Linked DNA regions of Homo sapiens. The protein of the gene in region 2 interacts with the protein of the main gene of each other region in a pairwise test. Each region holds a gene or a part of one and is shown on either strand. Other genes may lie near its edges.

The links. The genes of interacting proteins can lie anywhere in the genome.
Region 1: the proteins of DRD2 (region 2) and ADGRG1 interact in a two-hybrid assay, tested with the Homo sapiens proteins (one large-scale study listed by BioGRID and IntAct).
Region 3: the proteins of DRD2 (region 2) and GDPD2 interact in a two-hybrid assay, tested with the Homo sapiens proteins (one large-scale study listed by BioGRID and IntAct).
Region 4: the proteins of DRD2 (region 2) and ARL1 interact in a two-hybrid assay, tested with the Homo sapiens proteins (one large-scale study listed by BioGRID and IntAct).

The regions. Positions count from the first base shown.
Region 1 is NC_000016.10:57,652,630-57,656,129, reverse strand, and holds part of ADGRG1 (adhesion G-protein coupled receptor G1 isoform b precursor), read right to left. Parts: intron 2,928-3,500; coding exon 2,795-2,927; intron 2,145-2,794; coding exon 1,997-2,144; intron 732-1,996; coding exon 600-731; intron 255-599; coding exon 138-254; intron 1-137. UniProt on the Homo sapiens protein: Adhesion G-protein coupled receptor (aGPCR) for steroid hormone 17alpha-hydroxypregnenolone (17-OH), which is involved in cell adhesion and cell-cell interactions.
Region 2 is NC_000011.10:113,412,899-113,416,398, forward strand, and holds part of DRD2 (D(2) dopamine receptor), read right to left. Parts: intron 2,714-3,500; coding exon 2,523-2,713; intron 1,564-2,522; coding exon 1,477-1,563; intron 1-1,476. UniProt on the Homo sapiens protein: Dopamine receptor whose activity is mediated by G proteins which inhibit adenylyl cyclase. Positively regulates postnatal regression of retinal hyaloid vessels via suppression of VEGFR2/KDR activity, downstream of OPN5.
Region 3 is NC_000023.11:70,422,055-70,426,113, reverse strand, and holds the start of GDPD2 (glycerophosphoinositol inositolphosphodiesterase GDPD2), read right to left. Parts: upstream 2,801-4,059; 5' UTR 2,732-2,800; intron 1,139-2,731; 5' UTR 1,130-1,138; coding exon 1,025-1,129; intron 761-1,024; coding exon 657-760; intron 352-656; coding exon 258-351; intron 63-257; coding exon 3-62; intron 1-2. UniProt on the Homo sapiens protein: Has glycerophosphoinositol inositolphosphodiesterase activity and specifically hydrolyzes glycerophosphoinositol, with no activity for other substrates such as glycerophosphoinositol 4-phosphate, glycerophosphocholine, glycerophosphoethanolamine, and glycerophosphoserine.
Region 4 is NC_000012.12:101,397,773-101,401,272, forward strand, and holds part of ARL1 (ADP-ribosylation factor-like protein 1), read right to left. Parts: intron 3,402-3,500; coding exon 3,290-3,401; intron 1-3,289. UniProt on the Homo sapiens protein: GTP-binding protein that recruits several effectors, such as golgins, arfaptins and Arf-GEFs to the trans-Golgi network, and modulates their functions at the Golgi complex.

The DNA of each region.
Region 1 (3,500 bases), on a different chromosome or scaffold from region 2:
CCACCCGCCCCATTTGGACCTGACTGCTCGATCAGGCAATCGTTTCATTATAAAGACAAATGAGTCTGGAGGGAGGGAGAGGAAAGGGTGACATGGCCGAGGGGCGCTTGTTCTCTTGATGGCTGGCCCCCACTCACCGGCTGTAGCTGGTGCTGGAAAGTGAGCACCACGGGCTCCGTGAGGTTGGCTACTTTGGTGTTCTGTACCACAATCCCCAAGACCTTCTCACCCAGGACTTGGCTGGAATTCTTGTCCTAGATACATGGGGTTGGAGGAAGAGAGTAGGGAGGGAGTTCAGGACTGAGAAGAAGGGCCCAGAAGCCCCTTACCCTCTCTAGATAACCCTCTCCCAGCACATTGCCTTGAGATGCTGCGTCTCCCTCTGGAACCACTTTTGCCCATGTAGTCATTTACACTATAGTAAGAAGAACATTGCTTAGCCCTCTCACAGGGAGATTTGCACATTGCAGTGCAATTTGTAACTTTACAAGGAAAGGCTTTGACTCCCAGAGGAAGGAGCTCATCTGCGTGCCTTCTTTCCACCTCTGTCAGAAAAAAACTGCTTTCTCCTGGGAGGCATGAGGGTGAGGACCCCATACCTGGAACAGGGCTTGGCTGCTGAAGTCCACCAGGAGGAGTCTCTTCTCAGCCTCCCCGCTCCGGCCTTTCGTCCTCTGGAAGAGTGTTCGAGGCAGCAGCACCGAGTACTCCATGATCTCGCTCTGCTCCTCCTGCAGAGGTCCCTTTAGGGCTCAGCCAAATGCGGACCCCTAGATCCGTGCCCCCCACCCTAGCACACACACACACACACCCATCCGTTCCTGGACGCTGCCACTTCTAAGCCCATTTCTTCAGGAAGTCAAGCCTGACTCATGACAGCCCTCCTCATCCCTCCCTTCCCTGCTACCAGCTCTGGCTGGGGAGTCTTGTGGTTAGAATCCAGGACTCCAGGGCAAATAGCCCTGGGAGAACCACATGATGTTCTGTTGTCTGGGGCTTCAGATGCCAGCTCTGCCTACAGCAGCCAACTTGGGGGTGGCCATGTGGGCAGTGTGGGTGGTTCCCAGCTAACCAGAGCCACTCAGGGGGCAGTCTCAAGATGGGGTGTGTGGCTGGGTGCAGTGGCTCACGCCTGTAATCCCAGCACTTTGAGAGGCCAGGGCGAGAGGACTGCTTGAACCCCGGAGGTCAAGACCAACCTGGACAACGTAGCAAGACCTTGTCTTTACAAAAATAAAAAAATGTTTTTTGAGACAGAGTCTCGCTCTGTTGCCCAGGCTGGAGTGTAGTGGCACAATCTCAGCTCACTGCAACCTCCGCCTCCCGGGTTCAAGCGATTCTCCTGCCTCAACCTCCCGAGTAGCTGGAATTACAGGCATGTACTACCATGCCCGGCTAATTTTTATATTTTTAGTAGAGACAGGGTTTCACCATGTTGGCCAGGCTGGTCTCGAACTCCTGACCTCAAGTGATCTGCCTGCCTCGGCCTCCCAAAATGCTGGGATTACAGATGTGAGCCACTGCACCTAGCCTTGCAAAGAATTTTTTAAAGCCAGGTGTGGTAGCAAGCCTGCAGTCCCAGCTGCTCACAGGCTGAAGTGGGAGAATCGCTTGAGACCAGGAGTTTGAGGCTGCAGTGAGACATGATTACCCCACTGTACTCCAGTCTGGGTGACAAAGCAAGACCCTGTCTCGAAAAAAAAAAAACGGGGGGGGGGGGTGCGTGGACAGGCGTTTAGGGGCTGGTCTTCTGTTCACACGGGTGGCCCCAGGAGACTGGTATAGGAAGCAGACCCTGCCACTGTGCCCACACAGGGTCCTCAATCCCACGGTTGAACTACTGACTTAGGATGGCTATCCTCGGGCCTGGAACCTTCTCGGGAGGCCCCAGGGAGAGGCTGCGACGGCACTGAGCTTCAGGGAGTGCTCACAGCCCCCACCTCCATCTGGCCCCGGCCCAACCCGCATCTGCTTCCTGCCCAGGCCTGCCCCTGACCTCCTGCCGGGAGTGGATGTGCAGGTCCTGGAGGCCGGCTGTGGGCTGGAGCTTCCACACCGTGGCGTTGATCCGGTCCTCCTCGAAGGACACCATGTCCCCCATGAATCTCACAGAGGTCAGTTTCGACTCCAGGCTCTGCAACTGCCTGGCAGGGAGGAGAAAGCGGTGGTGATGGTGGGGAGGGGGCCGGGCCACCAGGGAGACTGAGGCAGGAGGACGAGAGACTCAGACAGAGACACAGGGAAGAGGCAGAGGCAGAGGCAGAGGCAGAGAGAGGGGTGGGGTGGGCAAGAGAGAGTGGAGAGCAGACAAAAGAGAAAAGCAGGCATCTGCGTGTGGGAGAGAAAGAATGAGCTGGGGTAGGGTCAGACAGAGGAGGCCAGGACCTGGGAGCCAAGGGAAAGGAGAGCAATGGTGTGGTGGGGGCTGTCCTGGGACTCAGCACCATGGGTTTGGGCCCAGCTCCGCCTGTGCCAACCTACTCTGTGGCCTTGGAGCGGCTCTGCCGTCTCTGAGCCTTGGTCTGCTGGGCTGTACTGTGGACCACCCATCCTTTCTTTATGAGGGGGAGGAGGGCTTGGGATGGTGGATGTGATGTTGGTTACTGACTCAGACAGGAGAGGGCTCAGCCTGGGGGGCATGTGTTGACTCCCAGAAGGCAGAAAGAGAAATCAAAGAAGCATTCCAGTCCCAGGGAAGGCCTCGCAGTAGCCCCTACTCCAGGTCCCACCCTGCCCAGGTCCAGATCTCTGATGCCTTCCTGCCTCCCCTCACAGCCCCAGGTGCCAAACTTACTGGCTGGCGGGGGCAGCCGAGGGCCTCCTTGAGGCCTTCTGGGGATGCTTCAGGAACTGGCTGAGCAGCTGGAGGTCCCTTTTGAGCTCGCACATGTCCACCGAGGCATTGTGAGCGGCCGTGTGGGGAGGACCTGGGGGAGGGGTGGACAGGCCCCCGCCGAGGCTGCCGATTCAGGTCCCAGGACCCTCCCATTCTGCCCCCTACCACCCTGACATGACTCTGAATGCCTCGATCTTTACTTTACAAAGGGGAAACTGAGGCTTCAAGAAGCAGAGTGGACTCTGCCAAGGCCACTCAGATGAGGCCAACCCGTGGGGGTTGTGTCTTACAGAACCCGCCAGCAATGCCAGCCCCAGCGGGATGGGGTGGGATGTGCCTTGCTCAGCACCCTCCGCAGACACCTTCGGCTACACACACGGAGCAGAGAGGGCCCAGCCAGGCCTCCTTAGGAGGGATGTGCGGGGCTTGGTGGTGGTTCCTGGGACTCCACACCCACCAGCCTCCCTGACTCCAGGCTCGGGCCCCTCTGCCCAGGTAGCGTGGGCGGCCTACTAAGGCGGCCGACTAAGGTGTCTCCAGGGATTAGCTGGGACTCAGATGAGGAAGACAAACAGTGGGGGTTGGAGGGTATACTTTCTGTGCCACTGAGGAAGGCAGGCCCTGGGTAGCTCCATCTTTTGAATGCATAACCGAGAAAGCCTGG
Region 2 (3,500 bases):
AGGGCTCTGGGTAAAGCCGGACAAGTTCCCAGGCATCAGCCACCCATCTCACTGGCCCCTCCCTTTCCCCCTCTGAAGACTCCTGCAAACACCACAGGGTCACCCTGCCAGGGAGGCAAGGATGTCACTGAGGCATGGGACCCAGGACCCATGGCAGCCCCTGCAGGATTGCCCCTGTCCTTTTTCCCATGGCAATCCTCATGCAGCCTCAATACCCCACTTCTGTTCTGCCAGGGCTGAATACCAGGGACTTGTCTCTCATGGCCTGAGCAACACTTACTGTTAGCAAAGTGCCAGGTGCCACAGTGGCTGCTGGGGTCAAGAGCTGATGATGTTTGGCCCTGCCTCCAGAAACTCATGTTCCGACTGCAAAGAGGGTGCCCACCCCTGTTCTCCCTGTCAAACAAGGGGCCCAGTGCTCCCACTTCATGGGTACCTGCACCTGCGTACACACGTGGGCTCCATATTCTCCTGGATAGACTAATCTAGGTGCCAAAAGGCTGACCCCTGGGGCCCCACATCTTCCCTGCTGGGGTGACCTAGAGAGCCCTGGCATGGATCCACTCATGGCCTCCTGGGTTCTTCCATAGGTTCTCTTGTTTGAGGCCTTGGAGGTGTTAGTCTGAACTTCTAAAGTGCAGCCTCACTATGTGCCTAGGTGGCATGACTGGGCTGCTGCCTTGGCCCTGACTCTGAGGCTCTGTTTTGGCACCTGCCTCATAAACAGCTTCTTAGAGTCCTGCCCTTGCAGTGCAGGTGAAGGCAGGACACCAGACCTGGATTTTGTATGCGGCCCTCTGTGGGTTCTCTGGCCCTGTTCTCCATCCCTCTGGAGGATGGAATGCCTGCTGCTTGCATGTTGGTACAGCTACCACCTGGCAGAGGCTGGGGTCTGCTGTGCTTCCGCACCTGAGGGCTCTATGTACACAAACTGCTCCGCCACCAGTCCCCGCAGCTGCTCTGCTGCGTCCTACCCCAGAACCTGCCCATCCATAAGGCAGCTCATGTCAGTGGAAAGAACACAGGTGTGGATTTCAGAGTCACACAGGTCTGGGCTTAGTGTCACCAACTCTTGAGACGGGTGAGTTGCCTAATCTTTCTGAGCCTGTTTCCTCTTCTGTCAACTGAAGATCGGTTCGATCAAAGAGACTTACCTCCCGGGGTCGTGGTGAGGATTTGATGAGATAATAGGGATATGGTAGATGTTTGAGAAATGTGAATAGCCATTATTATCATTTTTATTACGTTGGTATGGCCAACCATTTTCTCGTACACATCCATGCCTTGCAGAACCGAGGTGTCTCACTTCATGCCTGCTTGGAGGTGTGCACGGTGAGTCTGCCTTCAGCTGAGGCAAGGTGGGGGTTTCTGGGGTGCTTCTCCCATTGGCCAGCTTCTGAGGTCTCAGAACCATGGCCAGTGGGCTTCCCTAGGGGCAGAAAGACCTGGCTCTGGGTCCCTGGCCTGAGCACTTACCACTCTCCGCCTGTTCACTGGGAAACTCCCATTAGACTTCATGATAACGGTGCAGAGTTTCATGTCCTCGGGGTGAGTACAGTTGCCCTGTGGAGTGAGCCAGCACATGGGTCACACAAAGTGGTGGGGATGGAGGGGGGACAGAAACCCAAAGTGCAGCAGTCCATGGAACTCAGACTGGGCAGAAGGGCTCAGAGATCAGGAGGGTGGGGGCCAGAGGAGGCAGTTGGGGCAAGGGGGAAGGCTGGAATGAGACAAAAAGTGGTGGGTATGACGAGGAACACAAGGACCTGGTTTTTTATGGAGCACCTGCTAAGGGCCTGGCACTGTGCTAGGCACACTCACGTCCCTTCTCACGTGGAATCCTCAAGACCACCCTGTGAGGCTGGTATTTTGATTCCCATTTAACAGATGAGGAAACAGGCTCATAGAAGGTAAGCAACTTGCCTAAGGTCACTCAGCAAAAAAAGTGTCAGTGACAGGATCTGAACCTGATGCGTCTAGCCCAAGAGCTCTTGTTCCTTCTGTGCCCACACACTGTCTTCCTTGTGAAGGACTGAGTGAAGGGGAGAATTCACAAGACATCAGGGGGGAAATGAAAGAGAAGCACAGGAGAGACATAGTGGAGAGGAAGTCAGGAAAAGTGATGTGTGTTTGGAGGGGAGGACAGAGAGTACGGAAGGTAAAGGAAAGAGGATGGAGGAGTCAGAGGGAGCTAAAGTGAGACAGAGAAACCAGAAAAGAGGAAGAGAGGAGCCCACGGGGGTACCAAGCAAGAGTTGCCGCCTTCAGTCACAAAGATCTCCAAGCAAAGACTTCCCCTTGTTATTTAGTGTCATGGACCCTGCCTCCCTCTCCTGGAGACTCAGATTGCTCCACTGAGGTCCATGCCTTCAAAATCTGCCCTTGCCCGGCTCCTGGGAATTCCTTTAGCCTAGACCTAACCCTTGCTGAGGTTTCCCAAGCCCCCACCTGAGCATAAGATGAGCCCTCTTGGTAATGGTTAGGTGGGGACCCTTGGAGTTGGTTGGGGGGTGTCTTGAGACCTTTAGTGGAGCCCTCAGGTGGGCCCTGAAAGCTCGGCTGCTGCGTTTGGTGTTGACTCGCTTGCGGCGTCTGCGGAGGACAATGTAGATCTTGATGTAGACCAGCAGGGTGACAATGAAGGGCACGTAGAAGGAGACGATGGAGGAGTAGACCACGAAGGCCGGGTTGGCAATGATGCACTCGTTCTGGTCTGGGGGAGGGAGAGCCCGGGCAGGCAGGGAGTCAGCGGGCCCACCGGCCATAATTCCACAAGAGCCCATTCATGTCCTTCCAGGAACAAGGAGCGATTTTACAGAGAATATGAACGCAACTAGATGTTTAAGGCTGCCTGGTCATCTTAGATATACACAAACGCACAGCAGATACCAGAGTATTAAAAACACGGTTGTGAGCAAAAAGTTAAGCTGTGATGATGGACTGCTCCCAAGTCTTTCCATTACTATTCCCTCATTACTTGGTCATTAGTTTTGCCATGTCTGGGCATAACAAGTGAAGCCGATGTATCCAGAAAGAATGACACAAGAAAACTTTTAAAAGAGTAAACCATCTTTTTAGTCTGACCTGTGTATTGGGAGAGGTTGGCCACCTTTTAATGTTTGCAGCAAGATAACTTGGCTCTGTCTGTTGAACTCACTTGTGTTCCTATGTGTTTCATATGTTTGCGTGCCCTTCTAGGTCTACCAGACGCCTGTCCTCTATCTCAGGGCCTTGTGCATTAATCCAAGTATGTTTAGTGTTATTCCCACTTAGAATTCCTGTGATGCTTATAATAGATACCGAACCACACATTTTCAAGGCTTCACTGTATCTTTTGTTGTTACGATCTCCAGAGGTGCACACCTGCCATCGCTCTTGCCTCCCTGATGAGAGGAAGTTCCACGCTGGCGGGGGCTTTGTGTTGCCTCTGTCTGAGACACTCCTGACTCTGCCTCCCACAGAAATGGGCATGTGGTCAGCTTACCTCCTATTCACTTCTA
Region 3 (4,059 bases), on a different chromosome or scaffold from region 2:
ACCTTGTGGAGGCTGTGCAGATGCAGGGGCTGTCTACAAAGCCGCAGGAGCAGGGCCAGGACCTAGAGGAAGAGAGCAGTGGGACTTATGGGGTGCCAAGAGGGGAGCAAGGTTACTGAGGTGGGCTTCCCAGGCTGGTACTTCCCTCCTACCCAAGAATTAGCCCCCTCCCTCAGTGGCCAGGATGAGAATAGGGAGCTAAAACTAAGCAGGAAGGAAGGCTGAGGTGGGGTTAGGCCAGCGGCCTCCGGACCCACCAATAGCAAGGATGCATATGTGACCAGTAGAGAGATGACCAGCAGGAATGCCAGGGACCAGTCCATCCAGTGTCCCCAGCGGCGGAAGAGGAATCTGTGGGAGGGGAGAGGGAGGTGTCCAAGTGGGGGAAGGGGTGTCAATAGTGGCCTGAGGGGAGGTGGGGTGGGTGGATCCAGGAAGACTAGAAGGGAGTGAGGAGAAAGCCCCTCGTGGCCAGGGGCTCCAAGGATTGAGGAGATTTTGTGGAGGGATTTTCTAAGGAGATTGGGTAGCAGCAGAGCTGGGTTTGAGCAGCTGGGCAGGGCTGGGGGATGACTGACAGTGGGCCACCCCCGGGTCCCAGGGTGGGGAGCAGGTTGACAGGTATGCTGGGGAAGCAGGGGGAATCCATGACACACTCATTGAAGTTGTGCAGGTCATTGAGAAGGACGAGCCCGATGTACAGCCAGCTCAGGGAAAGGAGGAAGGTGAGGAAGAGCAGGCCAAACCAGATACAGTCGCACTGCAAAGGGGCAGGAGAGAAACTCACAACCAATACCTACTTCAAACTCAGAGTCCCCAACGGGTGGCAGCTAAAGGGAGCTGCCTGCCCCGTGTTGGGCTGCTCTGCTCGGGGGGCAGCTCTTTCCATATTTGAGGGAGATTTTCTTCCTGGGAGAGAGAGCCCCTTCCCCCAAGCTGTCTATGAGCACAATTGGCCTCCTTATCCCCTCCAGTGAGCCTCTGCCTTCTGACTTCCAGCCTCCCCCCTCCATCCCTACTCCACCTTGCTGGTTTGCATCCTCTCTCTGGGGCATTTCCTCCAGTGGCAGCTATACAGGCAGTGGAGGCAGCGGGCCCAGACGGAGCAGCAGCCGGGGGACTCGGCCATGGTGAAGGCCTGGGGGAAGGGACACTCGACCATCAGGGACCCTGGCAGAGGGCAGATCCCAGTCTCCCTCCTAGTGTATCTGAGGAGCCCGGGGGAGAGGCAGAGGCCTGGGCCGCTGCTCAGCAACGGAGGTCACGGGGCAGGCCCAGAGTGCCAGAGTGGATGAGGCGAGCAGCCCCAGCTGCAAGCCTGGCAATGGGAGACAGTCTCCAGAGCCTTCGTTTCCCTTTAATCTTGTTACCTGGAGAGTCAGTGGGACACCCAAGAGGTCCAGCCTCTTTTCGGGCAGGATTCATATCCACTCTCTCCAGCTCCTCCCCATTTAACAGCACACACCTCTGGGGATGGAGTGCTTGCCCTGGGGGTAAGAACTCAAGAGAAACTGCCCAGGGTGGGACAAACTCAGTTCAGCAAGTTAAAGCAGGTTTGGCCAAGCTGGAGGCAACCCCATGTTGAATTGCTTTCCAGCCCAGGAAGCAGGAGTAACCTGAAGCAAAGGTTACAGTTCTGACCTGGGGCTAAGGAAGGCCCAGCTAGTTGGCCAGTTGCTATGGTTATAGAGATTATTCAGATCACAAATCCCTGAAAGATTCTCTGTGTCCACCTCTCAGGGGACAAAGGGCACTGCCAAAAAGAGAAAGACTTGAGGTGAACATGTTGCCTGGGTCACTCCCAGTCTTCTAAAGGAATCTTTGGATTTTCAAAATACAGAGCCTCCCCTCAAGTCCTGCCCTTTCCTGCCCAGTCATCCCCCAACCCCAACCAGAAGCCCAGACTCGCCTTTAGGAGCCCCACCCTCTAAGTTAGCTTTGGTGAAAGTACAACAAACGCAGGGCAAAGGTGTGTATGCGGGGTGTGGTTGTCTTGGGGCAGGGGACCCCTGTACCTTATGCTTCTGGGTTTGGCTGACTGAGCTGATCCCCAGACTTGGCTGGGTACGTGACTGATTCTACGCGAGACGGTATGTGATTTGTGTCAGCATTTGCACGCGACAGCACAACTGGCTGTCGGTACAATATGATTTTAGGTGACTTTGAGTATGTAAAGGAGCCCCTGGATACACCCAAAGTGTGTGAGCATGTGTGCGTGCGGGCTGAGGGACAGGACCTCTTGTCCTCAGAGCTCTCCCGAGGCTATGGAGTCTTAGAGGGGTGCACAGTGGGTGGGTCCGGTAAGCAGGAAGGTGTGGCTGCTTCTGAACTGCCCTCTTTATGCTGCCTTGGGAAAGGAGGGTTAGGGTAGGGGTGAGGAGCTGGAGCTGGGGGAAGGAAACCCCTCCCCTCTACGAGACCCTTCCCGGTAAAAAGCCAACCCAAAGGGAAGCCCTTGCCTCTGCCCATCTTGGAGCTGGTTTGATAGCCTGCTCTAAGCTCTTGCCTCCCCTGGGGTCCTACCCCTGCACCCCAGACACTGCCTTCCAGAGTCCCCTCCCTTCAGGAGCTGCCTGTAGGATGGGATCAGGGTCTGAGCAGCCTGAAAACCCCAAGTAGGGTTGCTGACAGGGGTGCCATTCAATCCCCCGGCCCAATCCCAGTGGGATGGAGCTGGTCTCTGCTCCACAGCTCCCACCTGTAGCCCCCCAGCCTTCCCGAACCCTCACACCTTTGCTCAGCGGCAGCTCCGCTCCGCTCTCCTCTCTGCACTGCTTCCCAGCTCCTCTCCGAGTGGTCTGCCTCCTCCCTTTTTCAGTCCTCGGTTCAGCCCTATGAGTCAAACAGGTGGCACTGTTGCCACCTACAGGAGGCTGTGTGGGTCCTCTCCCAAGGCCTGCAGCTGCTCTGTGGCCTGGGCACAGCCCGGGTGGGAAGATGGGAGGGAGGAAGCGGGAGGGAGAGCAAATCTGCTTCTTTACTCGCTGGCGGTCAGGGGGCTTGGGGTGAGGAATTCCTTTGTGCAGGCTTTCCCATCCCTCTGTCCCTCCTCCTGTTCCCCTCCCAGTCACTGCCGGGGCTTTGTCCTGGCTCAGGGAGGCGAGGGCTGAGGGCACAGGCTGGCGGGAAGCTGGTGTGTGTGGGGGGGGGAGGTGACCACACAACTTTGCAACTTGGCAGTGAGGAGAAGAGGCCCAGCCAGCCCACTGGAAAGGCGTGTGTGTGTGTGTGTGTGTGCGTGTGTGTAAGCCTAACATCAAGTCTCAAGCTCCCTGGAAATACAGCCTTGATTCATTAGGCTCCCTCCCCTATTGAGCTCCTACTTCTAATTCAGCAAGGTGCATGTATAAGAAGCTGCAGCCTGGCGCGGTGTCTTACACCTGTAACCCCAACACTTTGGGAGGCCGAGGCGGGTGGATCACCTGAGGTCAGGAGTTCAAGACCAGCCTGGCCAACATGGTGAAACCCTGTCTCTACAAAAAATACAAAAATTAGCCAGGCATGATGGTGTGCACCTACCAAAGACTAGGTAGTTGCATGGGACATCTCACAAGGCCAGGTTTAAAGCAAAGACAAGCCTTGGTCATTTGTCCCAGCTACTTGGGAGGCTGATGTGGGAGGATTGCTTGAGCCCAGGACGTCGAGGCTGCAGTGAGTTGAGATTGTGCTACTGTGCTCCAGCCTGGGCAACAGAAGCTGCAAGCTACTTCCTGAACTCTGGATAGCAAGTTGCCGTTTCTGGACCAGAGGTCCCCATGGGCCTTGTGGATCCTGGGTGACACTAGCAGTTCTCCCACCTTCCCTCATCACCCCAGACAGGAGATGCTCATTCAGGACTTGTGTCATTTCTGCTGCCTTGTCCCTAAGGCATATGAGTCTCTTTCCAAGAATCTTTTGAGGAGTGTAGAGTATATTGGGGTCACAGGCTTTTGGAAGATGAACACATAGAAAAGATGCTGTTACTATAGCATCAGCATCAGCAGGGAAGGGCTGGCTAGCACACTATAGTTTGCTTAGTGCTAAAGCACAGGGGTCTGGGTGGGATGGGGGCCAGGGGCT
Region 4 (3,500 bases), on a different chromosome or scaffold from region 2:
ATTACAGGCATAAGCCACCGCGCCCTGCTGACCCTGTCTCTTTAAAAACAAATGCAAATGTTATTAGCAATGTTTTTCCCCTACGAATTGCCTTTTGCTCATTTTGCAAAAGATCTTGCTATGATTCAGATCACTAATCCTTAGTCATTGGCTTCTGGTTAGGCCTGGTTTCTTATCTTAATCTTGTTTATATTTGCCATATCTGAGCTTTGGGGGAGTTTTGTTTACATTAATATAATTAAATCTCATCTTTTGAATTCCTTATATGTTCTTATAATTTTCATTTTTTACATTTAATTATTTACCCATTTAGAATTCATTTTTGTGTATAGGAAAGTTGAAAGGCCAGGCACGGTGGCTCACATCTGTAATCCCAGCACTTTGGGAGGCTGAGGTGGGTGGATCACCAGGTCAGGAGTTCAAGACCAGCCTGACCAACATGGTGAAACCCCGTCTCTACTAAAATTACAAAAATTAGCCGGGTGTGGTGGTGTGCGCTTGCAATCCCAGCTACTCAGGAGGCTGAGGCAGGAGAATTGCTTGAACCTGGCAGGTGGAGGCTGCAGTGAGCCGAGATTGCACCACTGCACTCCAGCCTGGGCAACAATAGTGAAACTCCGTCTCAAAAAAAAAAAAAAAGTTGAAACCTAAACTGCTTTTGTGTCTATACTATATATTTTTTGTTTGTTTGTTTTGAGATGGAGTCTCACTCCATCACTCAGGTTGGAGTGCAGTGGCACTATCTCAGCTCACTGCAACCTCCGCCTCCTGGGTTCAAGTGACTCTCCTGCCTCAGCCTCCCGTGTAGCTGGGATTACAGGCGTGCGCTACTACACCCGGCTCATTTTTGTATTTTTAGTAGATATGGGTGGCCAGGCTGGTCTCAAACTCCTGACCTGAAGTGATCCACCTGCCTCGGCCTCCCAAAGTGCTGGGATTACAGGCGTGAGCCACCACACCTGGCCTGTGTCTATATGTTTTAACATTAACAGTCCTGACTCGTACTTGGCCCATACTTAACATAACATGATATTTATTGATGAATTAAAAGTGACTTCCTAAAGAAAGAATCCAACTTTTACTTCTTTCTCTGTAAGACTTTATAAGTCAAATCCTAACACTGCAAGTAACAACAATCCTGCACAACTCAAAAATTGTAAACTGAAGTCAATAATCCATTCCTTTTAAGCAATACTTTATATGATAAAAATACACTATATCATGTGAATTATACCTAAATAAAACTGTTCTTTAAAAAACCTATTATACCCAAGGCAATTAAACCTTATCCTTACATTTAAATTTGGTCTAAGAAGCTCTTATAATAAATATAATGCTATGATGTAAAAAAAAAAAAATTAACCAAATGTTTAAAACTATTAAGTCTGCAATTTATAACTTGGAAGCCATTAAGTCAGTAGTTCAAGAAATCAAAAGTCCTGGGCTGAGCGCGGTGGCTCATGCCTGTAATCCCAGTACTTTGGGAGGCCAAGGCTGGCAGATCAGGAGGCGGGCAAACTGCTGAGGTCAGGAGTTCGAGACCAGCCTGGCCAACATGGTGAAACCCCATCTCTGCTACAAATACAAAAATAAGCCGGGTGTGGTGGCAGAAGCCTATAGTCCCAGCTACTCAGAAGGCTGAAACAGAAGAATCGCTTGAACCCAGGAGGCGAAAATTGTAGTGAGTGGAGATCACGCCACTCACTCCAGCCTGGGCGACAGAGCAAGACTCTGTCTAAAAAAAAAAAAAAAAAAAAAAAAAAAAAAGAATTCAAAAGTACATAGTCCCCTCGTCTGAGGATGCTTTTACCTAGGTATCAACTGGCCTAGAACTTATATTTAAACATCCCTTGATTAAACAATTCAGAATCCAGTTTTTGACAAGAGAAAGAAACTTATCCATCTAATTTTCCAGAGCAAGGGCAATTTTATTATTATCATAGTACATTTGATTATTTTTTCATTTTTTAAAAATGGATTATTTAATGCATCCTCTGAATTTGATCAGTTAGCCAATATATGATCTTATTAACTTCAGTGAATAAGATGTATTGAATTCTTAATTAAGTACTATACATTGTTCCTCCTATCAGGGTAAACTCAAAGAACTTACATTTTAGAGGGAGAGATACATAAGTAAACAAATATATTTTTTTTTAATTTTTATTTTTTGAGACAGAGTCTCACTCTTGTCACCCAGGCTGTAGTGCAGGGGCACGATCTCGGCTCACTGCAACCTCTGCCTCCTGGGTTCAAGTGACTCTCCTGCCTTAGCCTCCCAAGTAGCTGGGACTACAGGCACACACCACCATGCCCGGTTAATTTTCTTGTATTTTCAGTAGAGATGAGGTTTCACCATGTTGGACAGGCTGGTCTCAAACTCCTGATGATCTCTGGTGACCTGCCCGCCTCGGCCTCCCAAAGTGCTGGGATTACAGGCGTGAGCCACCACGCCCAGCCAACAAATACATTTAAAAATAATGTAAAAAAACAGTAAGTGGGGTGCAATGGCTCACACCTGTAATCCCAACACTAGGAGGCCGAGGCAGGAGGATCACTTGAGGACAGGAGTTTGGGACCAGCCTGGGCACCATAGGTAGACCCCGTCTCTACAAAAAAAAAGAAAAAAAAAAGAAAAAGAAAAAGAAAAAAAAGAAACAATATCGGTATAAAGAATAAAGAAGGGTAAAGGATTAGAGAATAAATAAGACTTCTTTCTGGGGAAGAGATGTGGGAAGAAACACGTCAGGAAGGCAGCCATGCAAAGATGCTGGAGAATAGTATTCCAAGCAGACGGATCAGCAAGTGCAAAAGGCCCTGAGCCAGGTGTGCAAGCTCGTGTCCAAAGAACAGAAAGAAGGTCAAAAGCACTGTAAACACTGGGAAGGATAAAAAACGATAAACGTGAGGCCAGCATTGTGCCAGTAACCCAGAAATACATATTTCTCTGAACTTGAATCCTTCTAAAACAGCTAAAAATAAAAAGACATATTTTAAAAGTCACATCAAAGAAGTGACTTAGAATAGATGCTTTTGTTTAAGTGAGCTCTTCTGAACCTCCTGGAAAATCAAGCAATCTGGCTTGAAGAGGAAGTTACGAGGTTAATTTTTGTTGTTGTTTTGTCTCCAACCCTCCTCAACTGTATTTTTGGAATAGAAAATCATTTCCATAAAAGAAAATAATTTTAAAAGGATGGAGGGAACAACCCCTGCATTCTTTTTAATTATTCTTCAATGTAATAATATGTAAATGACTGCCCCACATTTTAAAGTGGTTACGTTTTCTTACCTCCAACATGGCAACTAACTCTGATTTGGAAATGCCAATTCGGTCTCGGTCACAACTGTCTACTACATAAATGACTGCATCTGTGTTTGAATAGTAACATCTCCAGTATGGCCTAGAGAAAATTTAAAAGGGGAGAACATATTGTTATTGTTTTAAGGAAGAAACTGACATATCAATTGCCAATTCTGTCCCACACATGTTAGAATCAATG